2 linked regions of the Homo sapiens genome follow. The protein of the gene in region 1 interacts with the protein of each later gene in a pairwise test. Each region holds a gene or a part of one and is shown in the gene's direction. Other genes may lie near its edges. The genes, in order: RRAS2 and LGALS4.

Region 1 (3,815 bases):
TGCAAAGGGAATTCAGACTCAGAGAAGTCTGTGGAAAAAATTGATGAAAGCATTATGTAGGCTTGGTGGTGGGGAGAATGGAAATGTCATATGTGGGAGTCATATGCTAGTTTGGAGAGAGGAGGTGGCAAGTGGGGAAGTGGGATTGATAGTTGATTTGGGACCTGTGATCTGGTCTCTGCAAAAAGGAGCCTTTTTGGAGAGACAGGAACCCGACCACCTGGATGCAGTCTCAGCTCTACCACTTGCTGCATGTGTAATTTTAGGCAGGTTACTTAACTTCTCTGTACCTTAGTTTTCCCCATCTGTAAACTGGGGAAATATGGTGGACCACATATAGCTGTGAAATTAAATGAGTTAACATGTCAAGGGCTTAGAACAGTGTCTAGTACAGTCTGTAGTAAAGCTGCATACATTTTTATATTAATTTTAGATTATGGAGCTAAAGCGATTTTTTTATATTTACACTTAATAGGGTAGCTATTCATTGCCTGACTCCTGGAATGTTAAAATTCATTCCACCATGATTGTTTAGCAGTAGTAACTGGAGGGAGAGAACACAGCAGACTAATCATTTTAATAAGCAGAAGTCAGTTCTCTTGGTAGGAGATTAGAATGGCACAAATTGGACTTACTTTTTTAAGACTCCTGAAACACCAGACTGTTTTTACAATTTTCAGTATATATATTTTCTACTATGTGATTTTGAGCAGAAAAAAATATAAAATTGGGAACGGAGAATTTAAAAACAATGCCTTTTACCCTAACTTTCTTTGACTTAGATTTAGTTGTTACCTTCTGTTCATATGAAGAGTTGCAAAATTAGGGAACTAAGATAATTAAATTGAGATACCTTTTCCTTTTTAAAAATAAATATAACAAATCATAAAGTAGCCATGATAAAATGTAAAGTATTATGTTATTTAATGAATATGTGTGTGTACATTACCTCCTCCTTTCTGTTGCTCATATTTCTTTGAAAAATGTGTAAAGTTCTGTTGGTAGGTAGAACACCTAAATGTTAAGTAAACTCTAGGTAGGAAATGACTTCAGGATGGTACAGAGTGGTTAGGAGAGACTGCTGGGTGTGTGGGGTCTATGTCTCTCTACCCAGGTGACTTTGAGTAGTTTCTTAATCTGCCTTTATCTCGACTGAGCTTCTCTTTCTTCCCCATGAAATGTTGGGTTTGGTTGAACAAATTTCTGCACTTTTGAAATTCTAGGAGTGTTTTTTTTTTTTTATTCATTTAACTAGCTGTGTGTTTAGTCAAGTTTCTTAGGTTCTCTAAACCCAAGTTTCACCATTTGAGAAGGGAGAATAACATTAAATAATAGTACCCTTAGGGTTTTTGGAGTAAATAAAATAATGCAGGTAAATCATCCAGCACCGTGCCATCTACAGAGTAAGCAAATAAGAATTGTTGGCTGGGCGTGGTGGCTCACACCTGTAATCCCAGCATTTTGGGAGGCCAAGGTGGGTGGATCACTTGAGGTCAGGAGTTTGAGACCAGTCTGGCCAACATGGTGAAACCCCACCTCTACTAAAAATACAAAAATTAGCCGGGCGTGTTGGTGCGTGCTTGTAATCCCAGTTACTCGGGAGGCTGAGTCAAGAGAATCACTTGAACCTGGGAGGTGGAGGTCGCAGTGAGTCAAGGTTGCGCCACTGCACTCCAGCCTGGGCAGCAGAGTGAGACTCTTGTCTCAAAAAAAAAAAAAAAAAAAAAGAAATTGTTACTTGGTTTTATTTGCTGCTGTTAGTTCTGTATCTTGGTGTTCCTCCAAAACAAAATTTGTAATTTTTTCATTTTTCTTTGACACATAATCTGGTCTATTACTTTAAGTCTTCATTGCCCTCTCCTTCCTGGCTCAACCCTATACTCCCCTCCTTACTTCTGTGTGGTATTCAGGTGATGAATGTGGATTCCGTTTTGAGTTGGAGAAATTTCTTTTTGTCAGTTTGGATTTAATTTTAAGAAATAATGAGGTAAGCATTTAATTTTGGGGTTAGTGCTTTATCTGGTAACTCTGAGAAAAGGCCATATATGTTTTAAAAATTTACAGGGAGGTTTATATATTTTTTTTAGCATATTAACTTTTTATTCAACAATTTGCCAGATTTTGAGGTAGGTAGGGGTTAGCTGATTTCTCACGTCTTGAATTTCAGTCAGTCCTATGACCTGTTAGTCTGGACCCAGCATTGCTTTTTAAAAGTTTGTCTTTTGCTGAGTACTTTTTCATTGCTTTTTCCTGGGGCAGAGAGCCGAGAAGAGATTTCAGGAGATTTGTGTTAATAGTTAATTGATCCACATGTGAAGGTTGTGAGTTTAAATTCCCAATTTGCTGTTCCATTGCTACATCTCGAAGATTTTTCCTGCAATTAGAAACTACTTAAACTGTTAACTTTTATCTATTATTTTGAAACTAGACATTTTTAGTGTTTAAACTTTTTTAACATTAATGTACAAATGAATTGTTAGCATTGAGAAATAAGACACCTGCCCCCAAAGTGGTACCATACTAAAGGTTTTCTTGTTTGGGGAACAGTTGAAATGGTCCTGCAGGCAATTCCTAGATAAAATTTCTGTACACCCAAGGAAGAACATTTTCTTATAGAGGATGACTGCCTTTGGAGAAGAAGGAAATTTTAACCTGCAGTTTCTTAACTTACGTCTTATTCTTGTTTTGTTCATTCTCTTTCTCTTTGTGTCTGTCTCTGTGTGTGTGTGTTTGTGTGCATGCGTACCCCTGTTTTGGGATAAGGAAGTTGTAGGAATTGAGTGGGGACACTTTTTTTTTTTTTTTGAGACGAAGTTTCGCTCTTGTTCAGGCTAGAGTGCAGTGGTGCAATGGCGTGATCTTGGCTATCTGCAGCCTCCACATCCTAGGTTCAAGCGATTCTCCAGCCTCAGCCTCCCAAGTAGCTGGGATTATAGACAGGCATGTGCCACAACACTCAGCTAATTTTGTATTTTTAGTAGAGGTGGAGTTTCACCATGTTGGCCAGGGTGGTCATGAACTCCTGACCTCAGGTGATCCACCCGCCTGGGCCTGCACCATGCCTGGCCGAGTGGGAGCACTTTTGTTGAGTAGGTCAAGAATACTGCTTTCCCTTGGTAGATAACAGGCTACTGCTTACCGGGATGGGATTTTAATTCATCTGATTGCTGAAATATCATGGTCTTTCCTAAGCTTTGAATAAAAATAGTCTGCTCCATTCAGTTAGGAAAATAAATTGATAACTTTAAATTGGGGGAGTAGAGTGGGAAGAGACTTTCTTAAAGCTATTAAAAAAAATTTTAGCTGGGCACGGTGGCTCATGCCTGTAATCCCAGCACTTTGAGAGGCTGAGGCGGGCGGATCACTTGAAGTCAGGAGTTTGAGACCAGCGTGGCCAACATGGTGAAACCCTGTCTCTACTAAAAATACAAAAATTAGCTGGGTGTGGTGGCGGGCGCCTGCAATCCCAGCTACTACTCAGGAGCTGAGGCAGGAGAACTGCTTGAACCTGGGAGTCGGAGGGTTGTAGTGGGCGGAGATCATGCCACTGCACTCCAGCCTGGGCAACACAGCAAGACTATATCTCAAAAAAAAAAAATGTCTCTCTCTCTCTCTCTCCCTCTCTCTCTCTCTCTCTCTCTCTATATATATATATTTTAAAAGTTTCTTTTTCAAATTAAAGTTGGTCTTTAAAATTGAAACAGATTTTGTGATGCCACTTGACACGCCTTTTTTTCTGGTTGGGGAAAATGGTCTTTAGGATATTAATTCCACCGTGCCTTCCTTAATGAAAAGTGATAATGAGTAAAGGATTT
Region 2 (3,815 bases), on another chromosome or scaffold:
ATCAATCAACTTCATCGGAGGCCAGCCCCTCCGGCCCCAGGTGTGAGGGGTCCCATCCCTTCTTGCGTCCTTTCTTTCTAAATTCAGTTCCACATTCATTTTTTTTCTTTTTTTCTTTTTTTCTTTTTTTTTTGAGACGGAGTCTCACTCTGTCGCCCAGGTTGGAGTGCAGTGGCGCGATCTTGGCTCACTGCAAGCTCCGCCTCCCAGGTTCACGCCATTCTCCTGCCTCAGCCTCCCAAATAGCTGGGACTACAGGAGCCTGCCACCACGCCCGGCTAATTTTTTTGTATTTTTAGTAGAGACAGGGTTTCACTGTGTTAGCCAAGATGGTCTCGATCTCCTTACCTCATGATCCACCCACCTCGACTTCCCAAAGTGCTGGGATTACAGGCGTGAGCCACCGCAGTTGGTCTATTTTTTCTTTTTGAGATGGAGTCTTGCTCTGTCTCCCAGGCTGGAGTACAGTGGTGTGATTCTGGCTCACTGCAACCTCTGCCTCCCAGTTTTAAGCAATTCTCCTGCCTCAGCCTCCCAAGTAGCTGGGATTACAGGCACCCACCATCACATCTGGCTAATTTTTGTATTTTTAGTAGAGACGGGGTTTCACCATGTTGGCCAGGCTGGTCTGGAACTCCTGGCCTCAAGTGATCTGCTGGCTACAGTCTCCCAGAGTGCTGGGATTACAGGTGTGAGCCATGGTGCCCAGCGCATTCCACATTCATTTATTTCCCAAGCATCTCCCTCTGCTGAGTTATGCCAAGAGCCCAGTGATGATCAAGGGATCCCACTGGGAAGACAGACCCATCACTGCAAGGGATAAAGGCCGGGATGGGGAGGCCCTGGCTGAAGGGTTGCAGTTGGGTTTGGGCCCAGACAGAGGGATCAGGGCCAGGACAGGAGGGTGGGTGGAGGCAGGCAGAGGGGTCAGGCCCAGGGCTGGAGACAGGAATGACTGAGATATCTCTGGGCCCTGACCTCACTGGGCTCACAGACATGGCATCAGAGAGTGACAGCCCAGAAATGGTCAGGTCTGTGATAGGGAGGGCACAGGCAGAGGGGCAGGGGCTGGGATATGGAGTATACAGGAGGTTTGGGAGCCTACAGGAAGGGCTTGACTAGTCATGGGTCAGGAAGGAAGTGCTTCCTGGAGTAGGAGGAAGTGTGTAAGGTGAGTCAGAAAGTGAGGATAAGGAAAGGCAAAGAACACACGATAGTGAATGAATTCCCTAGAGGTTGCTTAACACAATCATTAAAAATAAATAACATACAATTAAATTGAGTTTATCAATATTATTATTATTATTATTATTATTATTATTATTATTATTATTTTTGAGGCAGGGTCTGGCTCTGTCACCCAGGCTGGAGTGTGGTGGTGCAATCACAGCCTACTGTATTCTTGACTTCCTGGGTTCAAGTGATCCTCCCACCTCAGTCTCCTGAGTAGCTGGGACTACAGGCACGCACCACCAGCCCCAGCTAGTTTTTAAATTTTTTGTAAAGACAGAGGGGAGGAATTTTCCTATGTTGTCCAGGCTGGTCTTGAACTCCTGACCTCAGGTGATCCACCCACCTCAGCCTCCCAAAGTCCTGAGATTACAGGCGTGAGCCACAGCCCCCGGCTTATAAAGCTACGTTTATTTGTTTGTTTGTTTTTTGTTTTTTGTTTTTTTTTTAGATGGAGTCTTGCTCTGTGGCCCAGGTTGGAGTGCAGTGGCATGATCTCAGCTCACTGCACCCTCTGCCTCCCAGGTTTAAGGAATTCTTCCTCAGCCTCCCAAGTAGCTGTGATTACAGGCACCTGCCACCACGCCCGGCTATATAAAGCTACTTTTAAAAGGCCTTCAGAATAGCTGGCTGAGAATAGAAGTCAAGGCAGAATGGAGTTAATTACAAGGAGGAGAAAAGAGAAGGTAACAGAGAGAAAGAGAGAGAGTAAAAGTTAAAGGTGTTAGACTTGGGAGGGTGAGGCGAGCGGATCACCTGAGGTCGGGAGTTTGAGACCAGCCTGACCAACATGGAGAAACCCCATCTCTATTAAAAATACAAAATTAGCTGGGCGTGGTGGCGCATGCTTGTAATCCCAGCTACACCGGAGGCTGAGGCAGGAGAATCACTTGAACCCAGGAGGCAGAGGTTGAGGTGAGCAGAGATCGTGCCACTGCACGGCACCCTGGGCAACAAGAGCGAAATTCCATCTCAAATAAATAAATAAAAGTGTTTGGCAGAAGGAAGCCCCTGCGCTGAGGTGTGGCCAAGACAGAGAGAGAGGCAGAGACACAGGGACAGAGGCAGAAACTGAGATCAAGATCAGCGAGTGAGGGCCCCGGGACAGCAGGAAGACAGCAAGGGGAAGGGCACAGAGAACAAAATGGACCAAGCATTGTCCTAAAGCTTTGGGGTGACTCACTGGGCATCAGCGATCCCAGAACATGGGGTGCCCCTCTCCGTGAATCTGTGATCGGGGTGCCACCCTTTGATGCCAGAGTTCTCTGGCATAGTGGTGGTGGTGGTGGGCCACCCCAGGGCAGGCACTCTCGACATCTTTCAGTCGCAAATCTGGGGACCCTCTCATAACCGCTTTCTCTTTCTGTGCCCACAGGGACCCCCGATGATGCCACCTTACCCTGTAAGTACTTGCTGATAGGTGAGGGTCTTCCTCCCTAGTGGGGTCCCTCAGCCCCTCTCACCCTTCCTGCCTTCTGTCCATCGTTCAGGGTCCCGGACATTGCCATCAACAGCTGAACAGCCTGCCCGTGAGTGGGAGGGCTGGGAGGGCCCCGGGTGAGGAGTGGGAATGGTGAGAATTGGGGTAGGGGGAGCTAAGAGGGGTTGCAGCCCAAGGTGTACTAACCCAGCACCTAGAGAAACGCCGGAGTCTAATGGGTGTGTCATAGATATCTGTCGACTCTTGGAGAATAATATCGCTTCTTCCTCACTTCACAGACCATGGAAGGACCCCCAACCTTCAACCCGGTATGGCTTGGGGAAACAGAGATGGATGGTGGGGAGGGGGCACGGATCTCCAGGGAATCTGAGACAGCCAGAAAGGGAGTGGGCTGAGGGTTTTGGGGTGGGAGGTAGGGGAAGGGTAGATAGAGTTCGTGGTCAGGTTTAGGGAGCAGAAGGAATTGGGGATGTTTTCCAGGAGGAGTGGGACCTCTCAGAAAATTTGTTCTTGGGCTGGACATGGTGGCTCACGCCTGTAATCCCAGCACTTTGGGATGCCAAGGCGGACAGATCACGAGGTCAGGAGATCGATCGAGACCATCCTGGCCAGCATAGTGAAACTCTGTCTCTACTAAAAATACAAAAATTAGCTGGGCATGGTGGCGCGCGCCTGTAATCCCAGCTACTCAGGAAGCTGAGGCAGGAGAATCGCTTGAACCAGGGAGTCGGAGGTTGCAGTGAGCCGGGATCGTGCCACAGTACTCCAACCTGGTGACAGAACGAGACTCCATCTCAAAAAAAAAAAAAAAAAAAAAAAAAGAAAAAGAAAAGAAAAAGAAAATTTATTCTTGGCCAGACACGGTGGCTCATGCCTATAATCCCAGCCCTTTGGGAGGCCAAGGCAGGTGGATCACTTGAGGTCAAGAGTTCCAGATCAGCCTGGTCAACATGATGAATCCCCGTCTCTACTAAAATGACAAAAGTTAGCCAGGTGTGGTGGCGCACACCTGTAATCCCAGCTACTAGGAAGGCTGAGGCAGCAGAATTGCTTGAACCTAGGAGGCAGAGGTTGCAGTGAGCTGAGATTATGCCACTACACTCCAGCCTGGGCGTCAGAGGGAGACTCTGCCTAAAAAAAAAAA

The links.
Region 2: the proteins of RRAS2 (region 1) and LGALS4 interact in a two-hybrid assay, tested with the Homo sapiens proteins (one large-scale study listed by BioGRID and IntAct).

What each region holds. Positions count from the first base shown.
Region 1 is NC_000011.10:14,352,585-14,356,399, reverse strand, and holds part of RRAS2 (ras-related protein R-Ras2), read left to right. Parts: intron 1-3,815. UniProt on the Homo sapiens protein: GTP-binding protein with GTPase activity, involved in the regulation of MAPK signaling pathway and thereby controlling multiple cellular processes. Regulates craniofacial development.
Region 2 is NC_000019.10:38,802,686-38,806,500, reverse strand, and holds part of LGALS4 (galectin-4), read left to right. Parts: coding exon 1-40; intron 41-2,605; coding exon 2,606-2,632; intron 2,633-2,720; coding exon 2,721-2,759; intron 2,760-2,949; coding exon 2,950-2,979; intron 2,980-3,815. UniProt on the Homo sapiens protein: Galectin that binds lactose and a related range of sugars. May be involved in the assembly of adherens junctions.